Homo sapiens: one gene and its partners. The protein of the gene in region 1 purifies or fractionates together with the protein of each later gene. This does not show direct contact. Each region holds a gene or a part of one and is shown in the gene's direction. Other genes may lie near its edges.

Region 1 (3,653 bases):
AACTCAAAACCTGCTTCTGCTCCCCTTCTCCCCCAATCCAACAGGGAGGCCAAAATAAGCCAGTCCTCAACTCCTTCCTTCCCTGCATCCCTCTCTGCTTCCTTCTGTCCCCCATACCTGGCCAGGACAAATGGAATACCTATCCCATACAATAGGCCTTCGAGTATTTGAAGGTGCTATCACATCTCCCCTAAAATCTTCTCCAAGCTAAAATTTCTCTATTCCTACACTGGTTCTCATAAGGCAGGCTTAAATATCCACTTTGGACAAGCTCTGGTTTGTAAATGCCATTCCTGGAATGTGGCACAGAACAGAATCCGTCCCCTATGATTCTTTAAGTATCCAAATGTGGCCTGACCAGGAAGACCTCAGGGGAACTTTTTCTTTTTTAAATCTGCCAACTCTGCTTCTATTTTCATAGCCCAAGACTGAGTCCAATTCTTGGTTCCTGAAATACGTTTTCTCTTTAAATCTTGGACCCAACCAGAGATTCACAAGCTCTTTTCTTTTGGAACTTCTGCCAAAACCTTTCCCCACCTTTGTGCCCACTTTCTTACCCTCATCTACTGGCCTATCCTGTAGTTTTGCAATGGATTGTTTTTTAACTTAAATAAAATACAATTTTTTAAAATCCCTGCTGGGTTTTAGCTTGCTATTTGGACCCGGCATTCTATCTGGCAGAGGTAACACTTTTGAACCTTGCTTCAGTCTACCAACATGTCCTCCCAAAGCAATCTTACTGTGAACATCTTAACTGGTGCCTAAATGGTGCTAACTTTGACACCAAATGCCTCTTCAGTCTGGTGTGTTTCAGCGGGGCTCTCAGAACACTGACTCATTGGCAGCCAACAATTCTGTGAGGTTTTAGATGGAGCCTGGCCTCAGTACCAAAAGGCTCAGTCATCAAGTAAACATATTCCTCATGAGTTTCCTGTTCACGGACTCCTGGGGGCTGGGCTAAGGGCTGGACCATGGTAAAAAGGAAACAGAGGAGATAACAAAAGGAATCAAAATCATGGTACCTGAGCTGAGACACACACAGTAACCCTCCATGCAAGAGAAACTGGCCTCGAGCTGAGAGATGGATCCCAAGTTGCTACAGCTGTGGGGATGAGTGATAAGAAGTGACAGGAGAAATCTGCCTTGATTTGTAAGTATTTGTGGAAGCTATAATCACAAAGAGGGATAAAAATAGGAGTGCTTTCTATGCTTTCCAAGTTAAAGCACAGAATAAGGGAAGGAAGGTGGGTCCAGGAGGAAGTCAGTGTTTATGAGCTTTTTGCATACCTCCAGCTTATGCATGCTCTGTGCTTCTCGTGAGCTTTGTGGTCGAGACAGAAATAAACTGAGCTCCTCACAAAATGGCAGTTACTGCACCAGCTTCTTCTCTTGCCCTGCCCTGTCCCTCTTCCCACTGGGCTTAATTTTGAGTTCGGCTCTTAATGACACATCTCTGGTTGTCTCCTTTTGATATTTTCTCCCTTTGCTATTTTCTAGGAGATGGATTGCATTGTCAACCAAATGCTGCATATTGCCCAGTACCTGGAGTGGGATCCCACAGAGCTGAGGCCTGTGAGTTTCTATAAGGATGGGGTGGCTTTGGAGTGAGCTTCTAAGACGGGAGGGGGACACACTCAAGACATGAATGAGTGTTAACCCTGCAGGTGCTCCCAGACTCATCTTCTTATAGGCAGCTTCTTTGGAGTCCTGCACTTTACCTCCTACCTCTCTGATAGGAAAAATGTAGGCAGCAGGAAAACGTGCAGACATAACTGAAATAACCATGCTAATCTTTTCACCAGAACTAAAATGTTATAGCAGAAATTCATCAGTCAAAGAATTTAGAGAGAACTGTAGAGATTTCTATTAGAAAGAATTGTAGAGATCTTCCTCAATCACCAGATAATATGAATTATAAGAATAATTACATTTGGGGGCTCCTATGTGTCAGGTATTTTGTTATTCACTTTACATTCATTTTCTCTAATCCCTGCTACAGTGCCACAAACACAACAATATTATTTCCATTTTTACAGATAAGCAAACCAGAGCCCACAGAGTCAGGGTGACTGGCCCAAGGCCCAAGGGCAGAGCCAGACCTGGAAGCCTGGCCTCCTCACTCCCAGTCTGCTCTATTCACACTTAACAGGAGGGGAAAGGGGTAAAACACAAACCAGATAATGCAAGATGAACAAGACAGCAGAGGCAGAAGGCAGGTAGACATGTCGATGATGAAAATGGACAATGATTGCTCTTTGGATTCCACAGATATTGAAGGAGATGCTGCAAGGGATGGACTACGACCGGGACGGCTTTGTGTCTCTACAGGAATGGGTCCATGGAGGGATGACCACCATCCCATTGCTGGTCCTCCTGGGGATGGATGACTCTGTAAGTCAACAAGCTGGAGTTCAGAGATCTCTTGCCATTCAGGAACATTGGGCTTCATGTTAATATCAACATATCACTTTGGCTTCTGCTCCAGACTGCCCAACAGACGTGCCATGACCAGCCCCAAAGTCCTCTCTATTTACATTATTTTGTATCCATTAGTGCCTGAAGTATATTCATTTGACAGACATTTACTACATTATTACTACTTTAAAAATACTGTTCTGCATGCTGTGAGGGAATACAGACACATTATCTGCCTGCAAGAACCTTATACTCAACCAGGCAAAGGGCCACAAACTTCAAAGAAGAATTCTGTCTTTTCAACAAATTAGGTTTAAAAATGCTAAGAGAATTGGGGAAGGAAGGGTGAGAGGAAAGAACGAAGGGAGAGAGGAAAAAATACGGATCTGTTGTGGGGGTGGCTTCCATTAGTGGTATCTTATTTAATAATCAAAACAACCAGATAAGGTAAATATTTTTATCCCAATTTATACAGATGGAAAACTGAGGTTCTGACCCTAAGGAGCAAAAGGAGGAGTGAGGATTTGTCTCTGACACCAAAGATGTTGCACTTTGTAATATCCCACACATGAGAGTTAGGCCAGTGGGAAGAAACCTTGGAAGGTGTTGACTTGTCCCTGAAGAATGCATGAGATTTTGATGTCCCATTCTTGAGAATAAAGAGCAGGTGGCCTTAAAGACCTAGAGAGAGTTTATGGCTTGGAGAACAGCTTGATTAAAAACACAAATGAAAGAAAGTTCTGGGTGTGTTAGGCAAATCTCCCATTTGATCAGAGTAGGGCATATGTGTACAGGCTTAATGTGAAACTGATTGTTATATATACCTTCATCTGACCCAGTTACTGTATTCTCCACCTATTTACCAAGTGAACTCACTTCCATGCATGAGGTAGGGAAGACTAAAACTAGTAGGAGCACAAATGGTGACATTAAGCGTTTACTAGTCACACCAGTTGTGTGACAACACTACTTTGAGATTACAGATCTCAAAGATTACACCTCTTTGAGACTATTCCATAGAGAGGAACAGGGCAGCAAGTGCAGCTGGGTGAGCCTCTAGCTGACCAAGTTGCCTATAATATCTTCATTTCATAGCTCTGCAATTCAGGACTAAAGCTGAGCCCCCATTTCTGAAGCTCAAGAACTATGAATCTTGCAATCATTTCATAGCATGTCCAGTGCTTTCCAAGCTCTAAGGAGAAATCAAGGAACCAGGATCTACATGACCCCCTTCTTAT
Region 2 (3,653 bases), on another chromosome or scaffold:
ATAGTCAGTGAATAAGTAAAGAAATGAGTGAGCAAATATCTCTTAAAAAGAACAGACTTTTAAAGTTAACAAGCAGTGATGTGTTATTCAGTAGCAAATAAGATTGTTTCCTAATGTCATAATTCAATTTTCCCTGCTTCCTACTATGACTAGATGTTGGTTGGTGATAGTTTATATGATTCAGTTATTTGGTTGGTTGATTTAAAACAGTGAAATATCCTACAAACCTGCAGTTTGTCCTGCTATCCTCTAGATGGAGAGCCTTTATAATTTTGGTCAAAATGTGTGTGTGTATATATAGGCCCCTTACCATTATTATATGTGATTTTTAGAATTGTCATCCATGTTTTTTTTTTCCATGCCGAGTCCTGTTTTACTTTGGATACATTTCAGAAATAAAGTCACTTTTTTGTTAGAAGTCAGTGGAGTTAGAAAGTCAAATGGAGTACATGTTATTTAGTCAATTCCTTATTTTTGGAATTTTAAAAAGCACGGAAATAAATAATATGAAGAGTAGAGAAAGTTTCCATGAATTCTGGGAGGAAGAAAAATCATTTGTGAATAACAGCATTCAGTTCACTTATAGCTTCATGATTTTTTTTTTGAAATAGTTGTTCTTCCTAAGTTTCTTCATTGATTCCATTGCCCTGCTGTGTATAATTTGACATTTGTTTGGATGTGTAGGGTAGCCTGTGTAGTCAGAATTTTCAGACCTAATAATGGACATTGTATGAACTCTCTGAGGATTCTTTTGGACATTAGTTCTTACCTTGACAGTCAGATAAAATTAAGGACTTGGGGAGTAGATATCTGATGAACCAGAATAATGTCTTTTAAAAAAACTTTATATAAAGAAGCAGTAGCAATCTCCTTATGGGTACACCTTTATATATTTTAATAGTAATATGGACAAGTTAGGCCCTCCACTTCGAACGGGAAGACTTGTGCAAAGGTTGTATGACAGTGATACAAAATCAGACAGTGCCATCAAAAGACATGAGTTATTACCTATTTACAAGTAAGTATTTGTAACTCAGTTTGGTTAATATTTTTCAGATATTTCCTTAAAAGCTTTATATAATGGAATAACATAACTTTTACTGTCCTATACTTAAAAAAATCTGTTGAATAATTTCTAAGCCAAAATGTGTCAAATAATCTAGGATTTAAAACATTTTGATTTTTAGTAAGCATTTCTGTTGTACTAAATAAAACTTTTTAGGTTATACATTTTATTCCATTAAATATTAATTTTTTGAGGTTTCAAATTGCAGTCACATTTAATAATTATTTTTATGAAGTTTTTTTTAGTAGTAATTAGGGTTTTTTGTAATAGTAGTTTTAAAAAGCAGAGTTTGAGAAAAATAATGTCTTGTACAGTATATAATATTGTTAGATTATCTCTTAGATAAGCCGATGGTGAACTATTATAAAAAGCCCAGAAAAAGAAAAGATTTTAGGAAACTTTCAATCCAAGGGTCCTTAGTCTTTTTGTTAGATGGTTGTAAATTCTGCCTACAACCGGGAAAAAGTATGACACTGCCAAAGAGTCAAGCTCGAGGAAGAGTATGACACAGCCAGTTCTGACCTGGCTGGCTGAAAAGAGTGTGTGGCAATGGCAGTTACTTTGAAACTCTACAGCATGAGTCTTCAAGGTTTACTAATTTGGGTCTCAATTCTAGCCCACATTTTAAATATGAAATTAGGGCCTAAAAATTAATATACCTATTAATGGTGGAAAATATTAAGCAGAGTAACTTAGTTAACTTTTAAACCAACACCTACTACAACAGTCTGCTCAGTATGTATGTATGAAAAGTAATAATAAATTTAACTAGATAAACAAAGGTAGGAGAAGTCTTTAAGATACTAGCAGCAGCCATTTGCTATTTTTAAGTAGTGATAAATCCTAGCAGGAAGAGTTTGTGCTGTGAGCCGTTTTTCATTTTGCTGATTCTACTGTCAGAACTCTCTGATGCAGATCTCACAGTAACAGTGACTAGCAGTAAGATGGATTAAGTACAATTCCAAAATTAAACCTTCTTTAATTATTCATATGAGCTGTTAACAGGTAGATTCTAGATACAGAGTAAGAGTAATGCTTTGCAGATTCTGAACAGAAAGAAAAATTTGTGGACTGTGTAAGACTGGGGCAAGATGTTTTAAGTGATCAAGGCCATTCTAGATGTTACTAAAAATAAATGACAGGTATTTAATATTGGTAGCTATTAATGATGATAATCTCTTATATTTTCCTCTAAATATAAACATTTTGAACAACCTCAAGTTACCGATATGGTGACATTATGTGTATATATTCATGGGTGTGTTTGTATTGTTTGTATATCTCATGCACTTAAGACGATTCTATAGCCAAAAAAAAAAAAAGTGTTCTTCCTATTTAAAGTCCATTCTTTGACAATGATTTCCTAAAGATTGAATTTCTAGAAAAAGACTCTAGTAGTTCTACAACATCCCCAAAGAGGCTATACACAAGAGTAGAGTAAACCTCATGAATGGACTTGGAGTGAGCATTTGAAGAGGTGCAGGGCATTCCATTCATGCACCAAAGTGATTCTTTGCTTGTTGAAGTTTAGAAGTAATTTAAAGAAGTAACTATGCAAAGCAACCACTTTGAATGACAGCATTGTGTATTGAATATGAGTTCTGTAATACAGCCCACTTAAGTTCAAGTACTACTCTGGCCACGTAGTAGCCTCACAATTTATATAATCTCTTTGAACATGCTTCCACTTTAAAATGGGAATAATATCTTCTGAGATTTGGGGGACATTAAATAAGGCATGTGTAGTATCTGGCTTCATAATTGTCATGTAGTGGCTGTTTGAAAAATAGTGGATGTTGTTATTACCTGCATGTACTTTGGAAGCAGCTATTTACAATTTTAGGGTACTCTCTCCTACTTTGCCATATAAGTAGAGTAAGAAAAATTTCAACTAAAGTTTAAGAACCTCTAATCTGGAGGTATTTTTTAAAGTATTCTGCTGTTCATATAACACTGTTCACCTGTGAAATTTAAAGATTTGATTAAAGCTCTATAGAGAGGGAGGGAACTATGCTTCAATGAACATCTAAATCCTAGCTTTGGAACACACTAGCAGGGTCACCTTGGGTAAGTTACTTAGGGGCTCTTTACCTCATTTGTCTTATCTGTAAATGGAGTTATGAACGCTACCTATTTCATAGGATTATTAGGATAAATAAATTTCTATGGGCAAAATAATTAGAATTGTACTTGACATGGAGTAAGCACTATTATATAAATGTTAACTTATAGTGGCAACAACAGTAGTAATAGTATTAGCATCAGCTATCTAAATGTTTATATGAATTGTACTTTTTTTCTCATAACCTTTCTATAAGTGATCATTTTATAAATGATGAGACTCAGACTTGCTGTCACAAAGCTGTCAGTAGCATTAGCATTTGAATCTAAATTCATTTGAATTCCCAAGCCTCTGCTTTTAGTGTTATATCATCATCATTTAGTTTTCTAACCCTTCTTTGATTCTTAAAGTTTCAAAATGGAGACTCATGGATGATCCAACCAGAAGTCCCTCTGATTTCGGATAGCCCAGGCTGTGCAGTTGGTAAAATTAAATCTTTAAAGGGAATATTATATTAACTCATTT
Region 3 (3,653 bases), on another chromosome or scaffold:
CAACTTTTGGGGCACCTCTAATTTTAAAGAGGACTTTGTAGGCCAGGTGTGGTGGTACACACCTGTAATCCCACCACTTTGGAGGCCAAGCCAGGAGGATTGCTTGAGCCCAGGAGTTCAAGACCAGCCTGGGCAACATAGTGAAACCCTGGTTCTACAAAAAATTTAAAAAATTTAGCTAGGTGTGGTGGTGCACCCCTTTAGTTCTAGCTACTTGGGAGGCTGAGGTGGGAGGATCGCTTGAACCCAGGAGGCTGAGGCTGCAGTGAGCCATGATTGCACCACTGCACTCCAGCCTGGGTGACACAGCAAGACCCTGTCAAAAGCAGGCAAAAAGCAAACTTTGTGGCTGGGCAAGGTGGCTCATGCCTGTAATCCTAGCACTTTGGGAGGCTGAGGTGGGTGGATGGATCTCTTGAGCTCAGGAGCTCAAAACCAACCTGGGCAACGTAGAGAAACCCCATCTCTACAAAAATTGGCCAGCGTGGTGGCATGTTCCTGTAGTCCTCACTACCTGGGAGGCTGATGTGGGAGGATTGATTGAGGCCAGGAGGTCGAGGATGCAGTGAGCCGGGATCACACCACTGCACTCCGGCCTAGGTGACAGAGCGAAACCCTGTCTCAAAAAAAAAAAAAAAAAAAAAGGCTGGGCCTGGTGGCTCATACCTGTAATCCCAGCACTTTGGGAGGCTGAGGTGGGCAGATCACCTGAGGTCAGGAGTTCGAGACCAGCCTAACCAACAAGGAGAAACTCTGTCTCTACTAAAAATACAAAATTAGCCAGGCATGGTGGTGGGTGCCTGTAATCCCAGCTACTCAGGAGGCTGAGGCAGGAGAATCTCTTGAACCCAGGAGGCGGAGGTTGTGGTGAGCCGAGATCGTGCCATTGCACTCCAGTCTGGGCAACAAGAGCAAAATTCCATCTCAAAAAATAAAAAATGAAAACAAGACTTTGCAATCATTAGTAACACTGCTATAAATAAAGTTATAATTCATTGTGTGCGTAAACTGTCTCCTTGGTACTGTCTTAAGGGTTTAGAGACATTATCGTCTTCATTTCTCCCAACAACTCTCTCCAGTGGCTATTTTCAACTAATCTGTAGATGAGCATTAGGAAAGTAACTGATTTTTAGATAATAAACCTACTCCTTCTCTCCAGGCTGATAAATGATGACAAGGTTTATGGAAAAGGCTTGGATTCCTGTGTCAGTGGTTGCAAGCCCCAGAGCCCACAGGGCTAAGGCAGGTAATGCACGTGAGTGAGGTAGGCTGGGTGTTGCACATTAGGTCTTTTCTCCCAGCTCATCAGGTGTTTTTATGTGTTCTGGTCATAGCTTTATAATTCGTTTCATAGTGGCAGCTGTTCTTTTTGTCACAATTAAACATGTAGGAATTGTCTTTAAACATGGCCATCTTGGTCTTGTTTTCCCACTTTTAAAAGTTTTTAAGCTCAAACTATGTATTGACCTTTACAAGGGCCTAAATACACAGCTTGATGAATTTTCAAGTGTACACATCCATGTAAACAGCAGCCAGGTCACAGGGCAGCATCACCAGCATGTCAGAACCACCTCCCCTGCCCTGTGTTCCCTTCCACCCAAGGGTAACCACTCACCTGACTTCTCTTCCACCCAGGGGTAACCACTCACCTGACTTCTCTTCCACCCAAGGGTAACCACTCACCTGACTACTTTTTTTTTTTTTTTTTTTTTTTTTTTTGGGAGATAGAGTCTTACCCTGTAACCTAGGCTGGAGTGCGGTGGCATGATCTTGGCTCACTGCAACCCTGACTTCCCGGGTTCAAGTGATTCTTGTGCCTCAGCCTCCTTAGTAGCTGTGACTACAGGCATGCACCACCACGGCCTGCTCATTTTTGTATCTTTGGTAGAGATGGGGTTTCACTATGTTGGCCAGGCTGGTTTTGAACTCCTGGCCTTGTGATCTGCCCGCCTCGGCCTCCCGAAGTGCTGGAACTACAGGTGTGAGCCTGCATGCCTGGCCTCACCTGACTTCTAACACCACATTTAGTTTGTTTGTTTTTGAACTGTATATTAAGTGGAGTCAAACAGCACATACTCATGTGTCTTTGAGTTCTCGTGTATGGCATTATCTGTGAGATTGATCCCTATGAATATGCCACATCTTATCTACTGTTGATGGGAATTGTTGCTAGTTTGTTGATAGCCAGTTTGGGACTCTCAGATATAGTGCCACCATAAATGTTTTGTACATCTTCTGAAAAATGTGTCCACATTTTTCCTGAGTATTCATTTGGGAGTGGAATTGGTGAGTCATAAGGTATGCATAGATTAGCCTTGGTAGATACTGACAGTTTTCCAAAGTAGTTGTACTGGTTTTCTCACTTTTGATAGTAACTTGTGTATGTGGAATGTAGTATTTCACTTTCTTCTTTACCATAAATCAACACCCAGCTGAGATGACATGACAGCAGAACTTGACCCCAGCATGGGCAAGATGATAAAGACACATTGGGAAATACATGCCATGGCTGGGGTCAGGGTAATAACCACTGCCCCCATTAGCTGGTTGTTGCCCTGTAGGAATGTGGTCCCAGTGTTGTAAGGTCTTTAGATTTTTTTTTTTAATTGGGAATATGTATTTTTATGTGGACTCCTTCAGTTTTTTCTGCATGAGAAAACCATCCAAGCTGGGCATGGTGGCACATGCCTGTACTCCCAGCTGCTGGGGGAGTTGAGGCAGGAGGATCACCTTAGCCCAGGAGTTTGAGACCAGCCTGGGCAAAATAGATTCTGTCTCACTTAAAAACACCATCCAAAACGTTGGCTTAAAACAACCACGATTTAGCTCACCATTTTGCAGGGTGGCAGCTTGGGCTGGGCATGGGTGAGCTCACTCGTGTGTCTGAGGTTAGCTGTGGTCACCTAGGCTGCTCTGCTTCTAGGGGTTGGCTAATTGTGCGTGTGTGTGTGTGTGTGTGTGTGAGAGAGAGAGAGAGAAAGAGGTGTGTATCTGGGTTATGAGTCATCATACAGCAGCTTAGCTTAGCCCCAAGTGGGCATTCTCAGAGTTACAAGAGCAGCAAGAGGGCGAGCCCCAGTGGCCAGATGCAATGGTGCTTTTGAAGTCTGCATAGGTCATGTTTGTTATTCTCATGTGGCCAAGTCCAGAGTCAGTGTGGATTTACCCAAGTGCTTGGATACAGAGAGACATGAACAAATTTGGGGCCATCACTATGTCAGTCTACCTCAAAAGCTCTTCCAATTTTTAATTGTTGGTAACTAATAAAAATTAATAAGATTTTAGGTGCTAACATTGCAGGTTAAACAAAACCTGTCAGTGGGCTAGATCTGCCTTGGGTAACCATTTTATCATCTTTGCCTTGTGCCTTCCCAAGAATCCTTGCTTGATCCATGGGTGGCTCCTGAAAGGAAGAGTTAGTTCCATTTGAGACTCCCTAGAATCTTTAACAGAAGCTGATCCACTTGACATGAATGGGAAATAAAATCTGGTACTACCTTCTTACACTTCCTCCCTGCCCCCGTTTCTTCTCCAACCTTTGGCACTTTCATTAGTGCACCCTGTTGTATTTCTGGTGCAGTCTCCTCCACTTCAGAGTCTTCAGTATCCATCACTAGAGAGAGAACAACTAATAAGTTAGCAATCAAAAGTGA
Region 4 (3,653 bases), on another chromosome or scaffold:
CGGCTCACTGTAGCCTCGACTTCCTGGGCTCAAGCGATCCTCCCGCCTCCACCTCCTGAGAACCTGGGACTACAGGCGCTTGCCACTATGCCTGACTAGATGGGGTCTCACAGCGTTACCCAAGCTGGTCTCGCCATCTGCCCGTCTCGGCCTCCCAAAGTTCTGGGATTGCAGGCATGAGCCTCCTCACCTGGCCCCAGGGCGTTAGCTTTAAAATCTATCCTGCTTTCTTCTCTCTTTTATCAGGATTAAATATGATAATATATGTGAATAGACTTTATAGTTGAAAGTATGACATGAATGTAGAGTGACATTTATTGTAACACCCAGGTGTTGATGATTGTAGTTAAAGGATGATAGATGCAACCTGAAAGATTGCAACTTTCAGACTGGAGCAACTTTGGGTTCCATACCTTTTTAGATAAAGGGGGGTGCTGATTGGATAGACAGTGTGGGTCAGTCTTGGAAATAATTGTCAGAATTTACCAAATCATAGAAAAACTCTGTTAATTATTTCTATTTGGATGCAGACAAAAACTTATAAATTTGTTTTCTCTCAGTTGCCTGGAAAAGAGGTTGTTACTATGAGTGCCTTCATTTATTAAATTAATTTATTATATTTAACATTGTTTATTTATTTTGTTTCTGTTTTATAAACTTATTGAGATGAACGTGACATAATATAAAATTGGCTGTCTTAATGCGAACAACTCAGTGGCATTTATTTACCTTCACAAAGTGGTGCAACCATCACTTCTGTCAAGTTCCAAAACATTTTTCCTGAATGCCTTTTTATTTTATTTTTATTTATTTTTAATTTTATTTATTTGGTTTTTGAGACGGAGTTTCACTTTTGTTGCCTAGGCTGGAGTGCAGTGGTGCCATCTCGGCTCACTGCAACCTCTACCACTTAGGTTCAAGCAATTCTCCTGCCTCAGCCTCCTGAGTAGCTGGGATTACAGGCGCCCGCCACCATGCCAAGCTAATTTTTTGTATTTTTAGTAGAGACAGGGTTTCACCACGTTGGCCAGGCTGGTCCCGAACTCCTGACCTCAGGTGATCCACCCACTTTGGCCTCCCAAAATGCTAAGATTGTAGGTGTGAGCCACTGCACCTGTCGAATGCCTTTTTAGAGTGCTGACACTCCACCGCCCTTGACAGTGACTCTCCTTGTCTCTATTAGATTGTTACAGGTCAGACTGATTTTTGTTTCTTCTCTTTCTTGGGCAGAGCTCGAAAGAGCATTCCAGACACATATGCAGAGCACCTCATTGCTGGCGGACTCATGACGCAGGAGGAGGTGTCTGAAATAAAATCCTCCTACTATGCCAAGTTGAATGATCACTTAAATAACATGGCCCACTACAGGCCCCCTGCCCTGAACCTGCAGGCCCACTGGCAGGGCCTGGCTCAGCCAGAAGCGCAAATCACCACCTGGAGTACAGGTGTGCCCCTCGACCTCCTGCGGTTTGTTGGCATGAAGTCTGTAGAGGTGCCAAGAGAGCTGCAGATGCACAGTCACCTGCTGAAGACACATGTTCAGGTGGGCAGCCTCCAAATGGCTGGTTATTGCTTCTCCTTCCTGCTCAGCAAAGGAGCTGACGTTGGTCTGGTGTTTTCAGTTGTCTGATTCATTTGACAAATATTTATTGTGTGTCGTTAGGTTCTAGAAACTGATCCTAGTGTTGTTTTGGTACTGATAGTCAGTTACCTCAGATTTTCTCTTCTTTTCTTTTTCCTCCATGTATTTATTTATTTATGCATGTTCATACATTACATGTACCTGGAATACATGCACACTATAAGAAATACAGAGATACAAGAATGTCTGTTTTTATTTTTCCAACCAGTGAGTAGAAAACACTTTGTTTCAGGTGGCTTAAATAAAAGAAACAAAAGTCAACACACATACCCCAAGGTAGCCCCCTAAACATGCTCATGTTTTACGTATTGTCTTAGGATCACTATAGGATGACAAACCACCCTGGTGGACCTGGGACTTAGGGGTTTTCTGGAATGTGGGACTTTAAGTGCTAAAACAAGGAGAGCAAAGAGTTAAATGTCTTTTTCTTTCTTAAGCTTGGATGAAGGAACTTTGCCCTCTAAATTATTTTATTTTATGTTATTTTTGGATGGAATCTCACTCTGTCACCCAGGCTGGTGTGCAGTGGCGTGATCTCGGCTCACTGCAACCTCCACCTCCCAGGTTCAAACGATTCTCCTGCCTCAGCCTCCTGAGTAGCTGGGATTACAGGCATGTGCCACCATGCCCAGCTAATTTTTGTATTTTTAGTAGAGATGGGTTTTCACCATGTTGGCCAGGTTGGTCTTGAACTCCTGACCTCAATTGATCCATCCACTTTGGCCTCCCAAAGTGCTGGGTTTACAGGTGTGAGCCACCATGCCTAACATGAATTATTTTCAAACACTAACTTGGCCAGGCACGGTGGCTCCTATCTGTAATACCAGTGCTTTGGAAGGCCAAGGTGGAAGGATTGCTTGAGCCTAGAAGTTCAAGACCAGCCTGGGCAACATAGTGGACCTTATCGCTAGTAAAGATTAAAAAATTTGCCTGGCATGGTGGCGCATGCCTGTAGTCTCAGCTCCTCAGGAGGCTGAGGTGGGAGGATTGCTTGAGCCCAGAAGGTCGAGCCTGCAATGAGCTGAGATTGCACCACTGTACTCCAGCCTGGGTGACAGAATAAGATCCTGTTTCTCCAAAAAGAGGAAATTAAAAAAAAAAAACCAACCCACTAACTTTAAGTTTTTATTATAGGTACAGAGACTATTACAACAAACTATTAATATGTACTCATCACTCAGCTTAGGAAATAGGATGTTATAAATACAGTTCCCCACATACCCCTCCTTGATCCATCTCCTCCCACCTCCGCAGAGGTAACCACTAACCTAAGCACGTGTTTGTTTTGCCTGTTTTAAAATTGTATATAGGCCGGGTGTGGTGGCTCACTCCTGTAATCTGAGAACTTTGGGAGGCCAAGCCGGGCAGATTATTTGAGTTCAGGGGTTCAAGACCAGTCTGACCAACATGGCGAAACCCCTTCTCCACTAAAAAGTACAAAAATTAGCTGGGCGTGGTGGTGTGCACCCATAGTCCCAGCTACTTAGGAGGCTGAGGCAGGAGAATCACTTGAACCAGGGAGGCTGAGGTTGCAATCAGCCAAGATCACGCCACTGCACTCTAGCCTGCGTGACAGAGTGAGACTGCCTCAGAAAAAAATAAATAAATAAAAACTGTATATAATTGCTCTCCTTCTCTAATGTATCCTTTTGTACTCTGTTTTTATTCAGCATTGTTTTTGATGCTTAATTTCGTTGCTTTTTTTTTTTTTTTTTTTTTGAGATCAAGTCTTGCTCTGTCGCCCAGGCTGTAGTGTAGTGGAGCCATCTCAGCTCACTGCAACCTCCGCCTCTCAGGTTCCAGTGACTCCCTGCCTCAGCTTCCTGAGTAGCTGGTATCATAGAGACACGCCACCAGGCCTAGCTAATTTTTGTATTTTTAGTAGAGATGGAGTTTCACCATGTTGTCCAGGCTGGTCTTGAACTCCTTACCTCAAGTGATCCACCCGCCTGGGCCTCCCAAAGTGCTGGGATTACAGGCATGAGCCACCATGCCTGGCCTGCATTAAATT

The links.
Region 2: the proteins of DGKG (region 1) and ZC2HC1A purify together in Homo sapiens (affinity purification with mass spectrometry; one large-scale study listed by BioGRID and IntAct). This does not show direct contact.
Region 3: the proteins of DGKG (region 1) and FBXW8 purify together in Homo sapiens (affinity purification with mass spectrometry; one large-scale study listed by BioGRID and IntAct). This does not show direct contact.
Region 4: the proteins of DGKG (region 1) and DHTKD1 purify together in Homo sapiens (affinity purification with mass spectrometry; one large-scale study listed by BioGRID and IntAct). This does not show direct contact.

The regions. Positions count from the first base shown.
Region 1 is NC_000003.12:186,278,589-186,282,241, reverse strand, and holds part of DGKG (diacylglycerol kinase gamma), read left to right. Parts: intron 1-1,497; coding exon 1,498-1,572; intron 1,573-2,268; coding exon 2,269-2,391; intron 2,392-3,653. UniProt on the Homo sapiens protein: Diacylglycerol kinase that converts diacylglycerol/DAG into phosphatidic acid/phosphatidate/PA and regulates the respective levels of these two bioactive lipids.
Region 2 is NC_000008.11:78,711,089-78,714,741, forward strand, and holds part of ZC2HC1A (zinc finger C2HC domain-containing protein 1A), read left to right. Parts: intron 1-901; coding exon of another isoform or gene 902-1,018; intron 1,019-3,538; exon of another isoform or gene 3,539-3,611; intron 3,612-3,653.
Region 3 is NC_000012.12:116,913,950-116,917,602, forward strand, and holds part of FBXW8 (F-box/WD repeat-containing protein 8), read left to right. Parts: intron 1-3,653. UniProt on the Homo sapiens protein: Substrate-recognition component of the Cul7-RING(FBXW8) ubiquitin ligase complex, which mediates the ubiquitination and subsequent proteasomal degradation of target proteins.
Region 4 is NC_000010.11:12,096,454-12,100,106, forward strand, and holds part of DHTKD1 (2-oxoadipate dehydrogenase complex component E1), read left to right. Parts: intron 1-1,230; coding exon 1,231-1,543; intron 1,544-3,653. UniProt on the Homo sapiens protein: 2-oxoadipate dehydrogenase (E1a) component of the 2-oxoadipate dehydrogenase complex (OADHC). Participates in the first step, rate limiting for the overall conversion of 2-oxoadipate (alpha-ketoadipate) to glutaryl-CoA and CO(2) catalyzed by the whole OADHC.